Homo sapiens: one gene and its partners. The gene in region 2 interacts genetically with the main gene of each other region. Each region holds a gene or a part of one and is shown on either strand. Other genes may lie near its edges. The genes, in order: CAMK1G, KSR1, DMPK and AGPAT1.

Region 1 (3,669 bases), on a different chromosome or scaffold from region 2:
TATCTCCTCCAAACTCTGCCTTCTGCTAGTGTGACTCACATCCGATTTTGTTGGATTTTCTTATAGGCACCTCTGTATCCAGCATAGGCTCCTGAGGGTAAGGAATTTTGTCTGCCTCATCCTTGTGGTTCTGATCCTGTGTTCATGTGCCTAATACACTTTTGGTACACCATAAGGGTTTCACAAGGGTCTGTGGTAAGAGTCTTGCTGTAAACATATGATGATTTGTAGTGTTGCCTTCATCAAGATGGTTGGGGTGCTGAACCTCCATTTGCTTTGTTATAAATTGAAGCTAATTTCCAAATCTTATGCTGCCTCCTTAATTATTAATTGTTCCTGATGTTGGCCCTCAATTGATTTTTGTTCCTTTGAGCTAATTACTCTCCAGCCTGTGTGCACAAACCAGTTCTGCCACCAGTGGATTTGCTCATCAATTTGTTGCCAAAAAAAAAAAAATCAGCTAGGACAGCTGTCCGACTAAACTTAGCTAATTGACTGAACTGACCCATCAACTCAATCAAAGTGAGCAATGCCTTTGGGTGCAGAAATCCAGTCCTAGTCCTTTTTGAAGGTAATTTGTGAAGAAAATGTTGTGATCCCATAGTGATCCAGTCAACACTAAGACCCACTCACTTTTTCAACACAGCAATCTCATTCTCCAGGCTGCTGTCCCGGAAGGCAGGTGACTTCTTGATGCACTTCAGAGCAAAGAGCTTCCCAGTCAGTCTTTGCTTCACCAGGAAAACTTCTGAGAAAGCTCCTCTGAGGAGAAGACACCAAAAGATAAAACTTAGTAGGGGGCAGACATCTTACACTTCCAGATGTAAGACCTCAGAAAGGACGTAACAGAGTCTATATAGTCCTCTGACCACAAAGGCATATACTGAATTTAAATCTGGAAGAAACATCAGGAAAGCACAAAATTTAAAAAAGGGAAGGGGGGAACCTGTATTCTTCCAAAATGCCAATGTCATAAAAAAGCTAGGGAGAGATAACACCCAAGTGAAATATCAGACCCTAGACTGGAACCTGTACTGGAGGGGAAAAATGCTATAAAACACATAATAGGGTCAATTGATAAAACTGGAGTAGGGAAGACAGACTAGGTACACTTAATGTGTCCATGTTCAATTGACTGAAGTTGAGAACTGTCCTATGGTCACGTAAGGGAATACCCCATCCCTAGAAATATACACAAATGTCCTTGATAGGTAAAGGTTCATGATGTCTGTCCACAACTAACGCTTGGGAGATTAGGAAAGAATCATCTTTCTACATCTATCTCTACAGATCTACAGAGAACATAGCAATGAGAAGGCAGATGGGAGAAATTGTGAACAAGAGGTGAATCTGGGCAGGGGGCATTTGGAAATTCTTTCTACCATTCTTATTCTTATTTTATTTTATTATTTTTTTAGAGATGGGGCTTCACTATGTTGCTGATCTGGTTAGGCTTTGTGTCCCCACTCAAATCTCATCTTGAATTATAATCCCCATAATCCTCATAATCCCCATGTGTCAAGGGAGAGACCAGGTAGAGGTGATTGGCTCATGGGAGCAGTTTCCCTCATGATGTTCTCAGGATAGTGAGTGAGTTCTCACGGGATCTGATGGTTTTATAAGGGGCTCTTCCCCCTTTGCTTGGCACTTCTTCCTGCCGCCTTGTGAAGAAGGTGCCTTACTTCCCCTTCACCTTCTGCCATGATTGTCAGTTTCCTGGGGCCACCTCAGCCATGCTGAACTGTGAGTTAATTAAACCTCTTTCCTTTATAAATTGCCCAGTCTCAAGCTGTTCTTCATAGCAGTATAAAAATAGACTAACCCAGTTGCCCAAACTGGTCTTGAACTCCTGGGATCAAGCAGCTCTTCTCCTTTGGCTTTCCAAAGCGTTGGGATTACAGGTATGAGCCACCAAGCCTGGCGTTATTCTTATTTTTGAAACGTTTTTCTAAGTTTGAAATTATTTCCAACTAAAAAGTTAAACAATCAAACTTAGAGGCAAAGTGAAAGGGTAGATGAGGGAAGGACTGATAATTACTCTTCATTGTCATGTGGGCGCTGCTGAGTTATGTTGATGGCAGTTGTATCTGACATGCTAATGTGCTTTCTAATTTGAAGACCATATTGGAAGAAAAAGATGCCACCACAGATTCAGGGGCTAGGCAGGTGTTATTTCCTGGTTCTATAGTTTGGGAATGACCCCTAGAGACAGAGACTCCACTGCAGCTGTGGAGAGATTTCTTCACTTGGCATGCCCACTAAAAAGAAGCCACTACAGAGTCAATTCATGCCACTTTCAATGTGACTCAGGATGGCACACTGGAGTGGCAGCTGGAGGTAGCAGATGGGACAGAGTGCAGATACAGTGAGAACAAAAAGACTCGTCTCTCAATTTTAGGTGGTGGTGATCACTCTGTACCAGTTATCAGAGGCCAGGGTGCTGAGCAACCTCTCATTCATTCAGTAGGATCTGCAAAGACAAAAGAGAGAACCTAGCAGTCTCTGAGGCAGGCTCTGAAGACAGAGCAGGTGGAACCAATGGGAATACAGGGCAGGATTCCAAATTACAGGCCTCTTGGTTTGAAGGGGGTCCTCTGGAGATCAGGCTATCAGACCAGCAGTTAAGCTAGGTACAGATGCTGAAGCCTGATTGTTCACGTTAGAATCTCAGCTTTTGGGATAAAAAGTCACTTAACTCCCATATTCCCAGTTTCCTCATCTGAAATGTGGGAGTATCAATAGTATCTGATTCACAAGGTTGTTTAGAAGATTAAATGACTTGATATATGTAAAAAGCTTAAAAGTGTTTCTGACATCTATTAAGACCATAAGTGTTAGATACTATTATTATCATCACTATTATTTGAATACCATTATGAAGAACACCCAGTAGTACAAGAGGAGAGAGAATCTAAGTAAGGAAACAGCTGAGCCATCCTTGACCCTGCCATCTGGATATGCTAGAATGAAAGCCCAATAGGAGTCAAGCTTCTATAAGGACTTTAAAAATCTGCATTAGAAATTACTTGGTGTTTCCTGTGTCTGAGTTTCCTGTTTTCCCAGCTGCACTTGGAACTGAGTTAATCAAAGCCGCCCGAGCTTGCTCTATTCATCCATTCACTTACTCATCCCTTCAACCAAGATTTATTGAACACCTACTGAGTATTAGACACTGGAAATTAAAAGGTGAGTGTTTCCATTCTTAAGAAACCTGTAGAATAGTGAGGAACAGGGACAAGTAAGCAATTAGCATTTGATTTGAAAAATGCTATCAGGCATTCAATGAATGTTTATTGAACTGATGGAACCTCTCTGTGTCAGGCACTAAGATTAGTATTGGTCTAGCTTGGAATTCAATGTGAAAGACAGATACATACACAACACATAAGAATGACATATTAAGAGACCACAGAAAATGGACACTTAAGACAGGGCCCCTGCTATTATTGGGCAGGTTGTGCAGTGCAACAACTTCAGCAGGTGCCATTCACCTTGAAGCCATCATACATGTTCATATGATAATTATTATATTTCCTGCCCGAGCAGACAACAGGCTAGATAAAAGAGCACCTTTTTCATAATTTGTACACTTGTCCACTCTCCACCATGCCCCACTGTGGTAACTCTGTGGGGTCTGCAGCCTGGGAATACTGGTCTTCATCCTGAGCA
Region 2 (3,669 bases):
CATTTGCATATAAATGTACATGTGTATATTTGTGGCACATACCATGTGCATTGCCTTGTAAATGTCTTCTGTCTGTATCAGCACATATACATATGCATCAGCACTATTAGTGGCTGCATTGTGTGGTCATACCACAAATTCATCTAACCGGTTTCCCTGTGTGGGCCATTCAGGCTGTTTCCAAGTCTTGCTTTTATAAATGGTGCTGCAACGAGTATCTTCCTACAAGTGAGATTTGCTGGGTCAAAGTATATGAATACATTTAATATCTGTCCTCGTCTTTAATATCTTTATGGCATCATAACTCCCCCTCTCCTAAGCAGGAATGGCAGCCTTCATACATTTATCCATTTGCCACTGCATCTGTAATCACACTGACGGCCAAGAGTTTAAAAGGAGGCTGGGCCTGGGTGCGGTGGCTCATGCCTGTAATCCCAGCACCTTGAGAGGCTGAGGCTGGTGGATAGCTTGAGTCTAGGAGTTCGAAACCAGCCTGGGCAACATGGTAAACCCCGTCTCTACAAGAAATAGAAAATTAGCCATGCATGGTGGCACGCTCCTGTAGTTCTAGCTACTCAGGAGGCTGAGGTGGAGGTTGCAGTGACCTGAGATTGCATCATTGCACTCCAGCCTGGATGACAGAGAAAAAAAAAAAAAAAAAGAGGCTGGACATGGTCCTCTGGCTGAGATTCTGGGATAAGTGTCAGGAACTATGGCTTCTAGTTTTGTGGTTGCTTGTGTCTGAGGTTCTGGGCTATGTGTCAGGCATTGTGGCTTCTAGTTTTTGTGGTTACCTGCAGCAAAGGGGGGCCCCCTGGGCTGACCAATTAGAAGAAGGCCTTTTCCTTGCTCCAAGATAGCGGAGGGAGGGGCTGGATTTCAGGTCTCCCTGTCCAGAGACTGATCAGCTTTGGTAGTACATAATCATATGGTGAGGTCTTGATCACTTGAGGCTCATGAAAGTCACTTTAACTGCATTCTTGGTTGCATCCCTAACTACAAATACTGATCACAGTGCTATTTGGGGTGCCTGGCTTTGGGGATGATTTAGTAGAGTTGTGGGTTCCTAGGGCTACAAAGGGTCTTGGAATTTCCATGTGGTCCAGCCCTCTCATCTTGCAGGTGAGGAAACTGAAGGCCTGAGGGAGAACTGACTTGCCAGGAACCCCTGTTAAGCAGAATTAACAAAGGGTGGTTATTAAAGGAGCACTGAGTTGGGAGTCAGACCTGGAGGCCCACACCCTTGATTAAGACATTATACCACCTTGAGTCTGGCCTGTTGACTGAGGGTGAGCCACTCCATCCTCCTCTGATTGTGGGGTGTTGACCTCAAGGGGTTTCCTGCAGGAAGAAGCAAATGGGTTTGCTTTCCTAGCTCTGTCCCAGTGCCTTAGGGGCCCTGAGGACTGGAGAGATTCTTGGAGCGCCATCTGGGGTATGTCACGGGTGGACCTTTTTTGAAGGTCAGTCTGCTCAGTGGGCTGGCTCAGCCCGAATGAACTGTCTTGAATCTTTGGAGTTGTCTGTTTACTTTTAAGGGCTTCTCATCCTTGCACCAAAAGATCCCCTGGAAATTAGGTGGGAAATCCTTAACTTTTATGGGGCCTTGTGTTTGTCTTAAAAGTTCATGCGCATGGCCAGGTGTGGTGGCTCACACCTGTAATCCTATCCTGGATCCCTTGAGTCAAGGAGTTTGAGACCAATGTGAACAACATAGTGAGACCCTGTCTCTACAAAAAATAAAATATTAGCCAGGGGTGGTTGTGCACACCTGTTGTCCCAGCTACTACAGTGGCTGAGGCTGGAGGAGCACTTGAGCCTGCACTGAGCTGTGATCTCACCAGTGTACTCCAGCCTGGGCCACAGAGCAAGAACTTGACTCAAAAAAAAAAAAAACCAGCAAGAAAAATCCTTGCAGATTTTGCATTCTGTGCCACTATCCATTGGTTTTCATGTCAAGATAATGTAAAAATTCTTTACAATTGCTTCCAGAAGGAGTAGCCTTTTAATCTAGTGCACAGGTGTCCAGTCTTTTGGCTTCTCAGGGCCACATTGGAAGAAGAATGCTCCTGGGCCACAGATAAAATACACTAATGCTAACAATAGCTGATGAGCTTAAAAAAAAAAAAAAAGGTTTGTGCATAATTTTCATGATACCCACCACCACAGATAGGCGGAAAAGTCCTTGTAGTCAAAGGGTTGGACACGGCTGATCTAGTGTCTTGTCCGTTTTGGCTTTCTCCCTGATTCCAGAATGCAGGTAGAGATGTAGAGACGTGCTCTCAGGACAGCTGTTGAGATAAAAAAATTTGTTGTCATTTATTCCCAGGCACAGCTGTTTGTCATTTGCATTGAAAAAGTCTCCATTCAAACTGCTGTCACATATAAAATCTATTTATGTAAGTCTGTATTTTTCTGTTGTCTTGGCCTTGGTGGGCAGTAGTGTGTTTTAACTGAGCAAACTGTCTTTCCAAATAATGAAGCTGAAGTCAGCCTACCTGCTTGCCATTTTTCTTCCCCTTCCATTTTTCTAATCTCCGGATAATTGTAAGAATGAATTAAGATTTGTGTTTAAGGCCGGGCACAGTGTCTTAGGCCTATAATCCCAGCACTTTGGGAGGCAGAGACGGACGTATCGCTTGAGCTCAGGAGTTCCAGACCAGCCTGGGCGACATACTGAGACTCTGTCTTGTATAATTAAATTAAAATTTAAAAAAAGAAGAGATAAAGACCCGTGTTTAAAATTTTTAAAAAAGGGGGGAAAGTGTAATGCAAAATGTGGACTATGCCAGCTATGATTGGGAAAAATAATTTTTCATACAGCATTATCTATAGATTTGTATTAGCAGCATACTGGTCATAAGCGTTTTGCTTTCCGCAAATATGATGTGGTAAGCTACTTTAAAGTGTGGTGGGGCTTTCTTCCGCATGGCTCCTTGAGGGGTTGAGTCCCAATTTATCCAATTAATTTGGGTTTAGTTTTGATATGGATAAGGGAGACCAGCTTCATTCATGGTGCACACACAGTTTTGCCAATAAGGAAAAAAAAAAGCCACCTGAATGTTCCTACTCATTAGGAGCTATCTGGAGAGCTCCTACCCCACTCCCACCAAGGCCTGGGCCCTTAAAAAGGCTCAGTGCAGCCTTTCTGTATCTCACTGTATTCTGCAAGATGCTCCTGTGAAGAAAGTTGTGCTGCATCAGCCATCTCCCTCCTGAAGATCCCTGCGGATGAGGATTTGTGTTTTAAAGGTTCTGAGAAGTACTGCAACAACAGTTCTCAAACTTATTTGTCCAGGGGATCTTTTCTTCCACTGAACGTAGTTGGGGAGACATGGCCTTAAGCCTTGAGCAGAGAAAGAGACAAGAAACTGTTGGCTCACTTACAACCAAGTGTTGTGTTTAAGTTTTAGGTTTTTATGAAACTGAGGTGCTGTTTGAGTTTCCAAATAAAATTGGGTGGTTGAAGAGAGGCTGGTATCCCTGTAGACTTATCCAGCCATGAGAAATTGCCTTTTTTACAAAGGGAAATAGGGTGTCTCCTGGGCATCACATTAGCACTTAAATACATGTATCACTGAATCCTTCTAACAAGAAGAGGAAACTTGCCGAGAGAGGTGTGCCCGCCTGCCTGCCTGCCTGCCTGGAGTTTGCACTTCCTGCCTCCTC
Region 3 (3,669 bases), on a different chromosome or scaffold from region 2:
CTCCTGCCTCAGCTTCCCCAGTAACTGGAATTACAGGCACCCGAGACCACACCCAGCTAATTTTCTTGTATTTTTAGTAGAGACGGGGTTTCACCGTGTTGGCCAGCCTAGTCTCAAAACTCCTGATCTCATGACCCACCGGCCTTGGACTCCCAAAGTGCTGGGATTACAGGCATGAGCCACAGCGCCCGGCCGCGGTCCAGCCTATTTTTTTTTTTTTTTTTTTTTTTTTCTGAGACAGAGTCTCGCTCTGTCGCCCAGGCTGGAGTGCAGTGGCACGATCTCGGCTCACTGCAAACTCTGCCTCCCGGGTTCACGCCATTCTCCTGCCTCAGCCTCCTGAGTAGCTGGGACTACAGGCGCCCGCCACCACGCCTGGCTAATTTTTTGTATTTTTAGGAGAGATGGGGTTTCACCGTGTTAGCCAAGATGGTCTCGATCTCCTGACCTCGTGATCCACCCGCCTCGGCCTCCCAAAGTGCTGAGATTACAGGCGTGAGCCACCACGCCCGGCCAGCCCAGCCTATTTTTTAATTTCAGTTTATCTTATTTTTGAGACAGAGTCTCTCTCCGTTGCCCAGGCTGGAGTGCAGTGGCACAATCACAGCTCACTGCAGCCTTGACCTCCTGGGCTCAAGCCCACGTCGGCCACCCTAGTAGCTGAGTATACAGGCATGCGCCACCACGCCCAACCAATTTTTAAAACATTTTTGTAGAGACGGGGGTCTCACCACATTGCCCAGGCTGGTCTCGAACTCCTGGGCTCAAGCAATCCACCCACTTCGGCCTGCCAAATTGCTGGGGTTACAGGCGTGAGCCACCGTGCCTGGCCCCATCATTTTTTCTTGTATCCTGTTGCTTCCCTTCAGGGCACCTGCCACACTCTCCATAATTCTCTAATTCTCTAGACTGCAACTGGATGAGGGCAGGGACCAGAGCTCATCTGGTCCGTGCTGGATCCCCAGTATTGTTCAGCAAAAGGGCACCCAGAGCCGAGCAAGCATGCCATGACAGCTTGTTACACGGTGAAGAGAGACGGCCTAAGGGAGGAGGAGTCCTCTCCTGCTTCTCATCCCTCCAAGTCTCAGCTCAGATAGCTCCCCACTCCAGAAAGCCCTCCAGGACCTTCCTTGCTGAGTCAGGAGTCCCCCACCCCCTGCACTCCATTGTCTCAGCCCTGATCACTCTGGGGCCTTACTGTCTGAAGACTGCTCTGTGTTCCCCCACTGGACTGTAAGTCTAGGTCACTGCTGGGTCCTCAGTAGTAGATGGGCACAGAGCAGGTGCTCTGGGGAATGAGTGATTCAGGACCCCAGAAGGTAGGCACTGTCCTTACTCCAACTTTATGGAGGGAGCATGGGGAGGTTCCCGCAGCCGAGCAGGGGCCACAGGTACCTACCCCGCCCCCGCTCACCATGGCAGTGAGCCCGTCCTCCACCAAGTCGAAGTTGCATGTGTCGGTGGCACCTTCGAAATCCGGTGTAAAGGGGGGCACGCTGTCCCGGAGACCATCCCAGTCGAGGCCAAAGAAGAAGGGATGTGTCCGGAAGTCGCCTGCTCCACCCCGGCCCAGCCGTGTCTCCGGGGGACACAGCAACCGCTGAATGAAGTCTCGAGCCTCCTCAGGGACCCCTTCGTCCACCAGCGGCAGAGAGAGGTGCTCCTGCTCAGAGGGAGAGGAGGCGATAGCCTGGGAGCGCCTACCGGGAGAGGCCAGGTCTCCCTGCGGCCGTGCTCACCTTGTAGTGGACGATCTTGCCATAGGTCTCCGCCGTGGAATCCGCGTAGAAGGGCGTCTGCCCATAGAACATTTCATAGGCGAATACACCCAGCGCCCACCAGTCACACTCGGGCCCGTAGCTGCCTGTCCCAGGCCCACCGCCCACAGCCTGCAGGATCTCGGGGGACAGGTAGTCTGGGGTGCCCACAGCCACCAGCGACCGCACCTGGACCAAAAGGAGCAGAGCGAGGCTTGGGCCCACCCCTCTGGGCCCACCAGCTCTGGGCCCTCCTTCCAACCACTCCCCAAATGCTTAGCCCCTCCCTCTGCCTGGTCTAATACTCCGCCACACAGATGCACACTTAAGCCTGGGTCACACCACCTCTTTTCCCCTCCAAATCCAGTCCCGCTCCCACACTCTGTGCCTTCCATCCCTCATCAGCAGCCCCAGTTGCTCTGTGGCCAGGGCACTGGCTCACCGTTCCATCTGCCCGCAGCTTGAGGCAAGAGCCGAAGTCGGCCAGGCGGATGTGGCCACAGCGGTCCAGCAGGATGTTGTCGGGTTTGATGTCCCTGCACGGAGGAAAAGAGAAGGGTGGGATAAATGAACCTCCCTTCTGTGGTCCCACCAGGCTCCGCCCCTCCGGGCAGTGCCACCTGGGACCCCACTTCCTCGGGTTCCGCCCCTGTAGGGCTTCTACAGTTCTGACCCCTACTCCCAGGCACCCCCCGGTGGGCCCCAACCAAGAAGGTCCCTCTCCAGGCCCTGGCCTCTCTGGGCTCTGACCTTCCAAGAACCCGGCCAGGGAACAAGCTTGCTATCCCCTCGGCCATGCTGCACCCACCTGTGCACGTAGCCAAGCCGGTGCACCGAGTCTATGGCCATGACAATCTCCGCCAGGTAGAAGCGCGCCATCTCGGCCGGAATCCGCTCCCCAAACTTGCTCAGCAGTGTCAGCAGGTCCCCGCCCACGTAATACTCCATGACCAGGTACTGAGAAGGGGTTCGTCATGGGTGGTTGGTAGTCCCCTGAGGCCCTGATCCATCACGGATGGCTGGGACAACCCCTCCCAGAGACACCCCATCCTTGGGCAGAGACCTGCAGCCCCAGCCCAGAGATAACCATAGAGATCTGCCGGGCCAAATCAGAGACCACCTGCGGCCCCCGCCCCCGCCCCTCAAAAAAAAACACAAACAAAAAAACTTTCCTGGGATGTCACTGGGCAGATTCACTCCCCCTGAGATGTTCTGGGAAAGAGAACCCAGAGGCCACCCAACACCCAGAGAATAGGTCCCAGACACTCCTTCCCTAGGCAGTGGCCCCGTTAGAATTCCTGAAGACCTATCCCATTCCAGGTAAGAGACCCCCCGCAACAGAGACATCTTTATAAGAGTCCCCCAGATCACCCCAGAAACGGGCAGTGAAGGACACCATCCCCGTCTCAGATAGGGAAGGCCCCTCATCCACCTGACACACCCTCTTACCGCACACAGACTTTCCCACAGACGTTTCCGGGCAGCACCCCCAATCCTAGAGCTTCCTCTCCCCACCTCCTCGTCCAGTGACAGCACGGGCTCTTGTCCCTCTTCCTAGTCACCCCGGCCCGGAGCTCACCAGGTAGTTCTCATCCTGGAAGGCGAAGTGCAGCTGCGTGATCCACCGCCGGTCCCCATTCACCAACACGTCCCTCTCCTCACGGAAGCACGACACCTGCAGGGCACCCGGAGGAGCTGCAGCCGGAGACGGGGCGCGGATCCTCAAAGCCCCCCACGTCCGCCCAGCCCCTCACCTCGCCCCTCTTCAGCATGTCCCACTTGTTCATGATCTTCATGGCATACACCTGGCCCGTCTGCTTCATCTTCACTACCGCTACCTGAGGTCGAGATAGTGAGACAGAGTGGAGACGGCGGGAAAACAAAAGGGCTCGCCCAGACCCAACTCCACCCG
Region 4 (2,855 bases), on a different chromosome or scaffold from region 2:
ATCCCCCATTTCCCCAGGATGACTCACGTCCTGGGTGAGCAGGGTCTGGGCGACCTCAGACATGACACTGATGGCATCCCCCGTGCGCTTCCGGTCGATGAAGATGACTCCTGCCAGCCAGCAGGCCAGCCCGGCAGAGCCAGCCCACAGTAGCTCGCGCTTGGCAATGGGCACACAGCGGCCTGGCAGTACCTCCATCATCCCTTGGGCAGGGTGGGAGTGGGTGAGGATCGGGGTGGAGGCAGAGTGTCACAGAAGGCAACCCACCTCACCCAGCTCATCACCCTCTGGTAGGGACTGGAGGTGAAGGAGGAGACTAGGCAGGGAGGGGGGCCCCAAGTGAAGGAAAGGGTGACCAAAAGTATATGTAACCTGCTTATGAGGGCAGTTCTACCCAGGGAATGAAGGCCTGAGTGGGAGGCAAGGGGGCAATGTCCCAGAGGAAGGGGAATTGAGGATCTCTAGGAGAAGATATTCTAGGGAAGGTTTCAGGAGGGGAGGCATGGCTGGGGGAGGTGTGCCCTGTGGTGGGGTCTCACCAAGCAGATCGAGAGAGCTCTGGTGGTTGGAGACAACAACATAGGGCTGCGAGGGAGGGAAGTGGTGAGCCCCTCGCACCTCCACTCGGATCCCGTACAGGTATTTGATGTGGAGCAGCATTAGACGCAAGATCCTGTGGGGTCATGGCAAGGGGTCCCAGTGGGATCCATTGATGTCCATCTGCATGCCTCAGCTCCCCCCACCTTACTGTCTTTCTGACCACCTTTGCAGTCCTCTCCCCATTCCCTGTCTCTGGTCTCTCTCAGTCTTTTCTACACACACCATGCCCCCTTCCCCCAATCCACTACTCACTTTGTACCCTTAGGTTCCCTCATTGCCCAAGACCCCTTGCCCCTCACTTCATGTTCTCGACGTTGCGTCCTCGCACGGCACACACAGGGATGGCGAGCACAGCCAGGAAGAGGATCCAGCCATTGTAGAAGGCCATCTTGAAGAAGTACTTGGCACTGGGGCTGCAGAACCACAGGGTGGGCAGCAGGAAGAGCAGCAGCAGGAAGAGCAGCAGCAGCAGCATCCATGCCCCTGGCCACAAATCCATTCTGGCCACCTGCAGGGGATGGGGCAAGGGACAATCAGCCTGGTTTCTGGAGGAGAGTGGGGTAGGCAAGGCACAGAAGGCAGGGCTGGGGGCTGGTGCTATGAGGACAAGGGCCTGAGACACAAACTGGGGCAGGGGTCTCATTGAAACCTTCCCAGGAAGGCTCTCTAGGATGAGGGTGGTGGAGAAAGAGCTCAGGACTGCTCTCCCACCACTCTTCCCAAAGGCTCCGGATATATTCAGACAAGAGACACAAGACACAGACATCTACAATTCACAGATACCTGATAATAAATGACAACAAGAATAATAGCTAACACTTGTAGCTGGTAAGGGTCTTATAATGGTCTATACTTGTGCTGTCCGAGAAAGTAGCCACCACCTACATGTGGCTACTTGAAATGCAGCTAGTCTGAACTGAGATGTGCTGGAAATGTAAAATACACATCAGATTTCAAAGACTGAATAAAAAACAAAATGTGAGATATCCATTACTAATCTTTTATGCTGACTACATTTTGAAATTATAATCTTGGGCCGGGCGCAGTGGCTCACGCCTGTAATCCCAGCACTTTGGGAAGCCGAGGTGGGCAGATCACGAGGTCAGGAGTTCAGGACCAGCCTGACCAACATGGTGAAACCCCGTCTCTACTAAAAATACAAAAATTAGCCGGGCCTGTTGGCGCATGCCTTTAATCCCAGCTACTCGGGAGGCTGAGGCAGGAGAATCGCTTGAATCCGGGAGGCGGAGGTTGCAGTGAGCCAAGATCACGCCACTGCACTCTAGCCTGGGCAATGGAGTGAGACTCCATTTCCAAAAAAAAAAAAAGAAATTATAATCTTTTGGATGTTATCAGATTCAAGAAAATATATTACTAAAATTAATTTCACTCTTTTTGCCTTGTAAAAATGTGGCTACCATAAAAAAATTACATTGTGGCTTGCATTATATTTCTGTAGAACAGTACTGGTCTATACATTAAGTTAAACTCTTAAAATGATGCATATGATAGTCTAGAAAGTACTATTACTATTTACATTTTATAGGAAATAGGCCCAGGGAGGCTAAATAACTTACCTGAGGTCATACAGCTCCTAAACAGCAGTTTCTAGGTTAAATCTAAGCCGCCTGTGTTCCTAACCACTCCATTACGCTGACACTGGTATGTATTGCATATATATATACGAACACAGCACACAGCATATATGGTGATTGTGACAGAACACTCACAGCCATATACCCAAGGGCCAAATGGCAAGATTAAAAGTTCGTGTCACTAATGCCAACAGACACACAGTCATACAAAGACTAACATGTTCACACATAGACACAAATTTATAATTACACCCAGTGACAGATAAAAGAATGTAAATGCATAACTAGAAAAATCCCTCTCCACCCAGGCAGCTCCCCTATTCCTAGGTAAACTTATGGACATACCTGGAATAGCTACAAAGACCAATCCTACCTCCAGACAGGCAAACGAATCCTACTACCCTTTCCCTTCCTTCTAGTGACACTTTGCGTGGGCAGGTACAGTGTGTGAGGCCTCACCAAGTGAAAAAAGGAGGGAATGGAGTAAAGGTGACCTAACAGCACTTGCCCTGGGAGAGGAAAGGGCTCAAGAGGAAGAGAGGCAGGAACACAGAACCTGTGTTCTAGGTTCTTCCTCCTTCCTCCACTCTGCCCCAGTGTTGGGGGCAGGGTAACAATTCACAAAAAGGGTGTTCAGGCAAATACCTGTCATTCCTACTG

The links.
Region 1: changes in KSR1 (region 2) and CAMK1G together harm fitness less than expected from each alone (positive genetic interaction), as found in Homo sapiens cells (one large-scale study listed by BioGRID).
Region 3: changes in KSR1 (region 2) and DMPK together harm fitness more than expected from each alone (negative genetic interaction), as found in Homo sapiens cells (one large-scale study listed by BioGRID).
Region 4: changes in KSR1 (region 2) and AGPAT1 together harm fitness more than expected from each alone (negative genetic interaction), as found in Homo sapiens cells (one large-scale study listed by BioGRID).

Annotation. Positions count from the first base shown.
Region 1 is NC_000001.11:209,597,076-209,600,744, reverse strand, and holds part of CAMK1G (calcium/calmodulin-dependent protein kinase type 1G), read right to left. Parts: intron 763-3,669; coding exon 634-762; intron 1-633. UniProt on the Homo sapiens protein: Calcium/calmodulin-dependent protein kinase belonging to a proposed calcium-triggered signaling cascade. In vitro phosphorylates transcription factor CREB1.
Region 2 is NC_000017.11:27,462,824-27,466,492, forward strand, and holds part of KSR1 (kinase suppressor of Ras 1), read left to right. Parts: intron 1-3,669.
Region 3 is NC_000019.10:45,775,928-45,779,596, forward strand, and holds part of DMPK (myotonin-protein kinase), read right to left. Parts: exon of another isoform or gene 3,596-3,669; coding exon 3,512-3,595; intron 3,433-3,511; coding exon 3,337-3,432; exon of another isoform or gene 3,207-3,336; intron 2,715-3,206; coding exon 2,566-2,714; intron 2,294-2,565; coding exon 2,200-2,293; intron 1,947-2,199; coding exon 1,740-1,946; intron 1,664-1,739; coding exon 1,400-1,663; intron 1-1,399. UniProt on the Homo sapiens protein: Non-receptor serine/threonine protein kinase which is necessary for the maintenance of skeletal muscle structure and function.
Region 4 is NC_000006.12:32,170,398-32,173,252, forward strand, and holds part of AGPAT1 (1-acyl-sn-glycerol-3-phosphate acyltransferase alpha isoform 1 precursor), read right to left. Parts: intron 2,720-2,855; exon of another isoform or gene 2,541-2,719; intron 1,109-2,540; coding exon of another isoform or gene 1,100-1,108; coding exon 900-1,099; intron 674-899; coding exon 540-673; intron 204-539; coding exon 28-203; intron 1-27. UniProt on the Homo sapiens protein: Converts 1-acyl-sn-glycerol-3-phosphate (lysophosphatidic acid or LPA) into 1,2-diacyl-sn-glycerol-3-phosphate (phosphatidic acid or PA) by incorporating an acyl moiety at the sn-2 position of the glycerol backbone.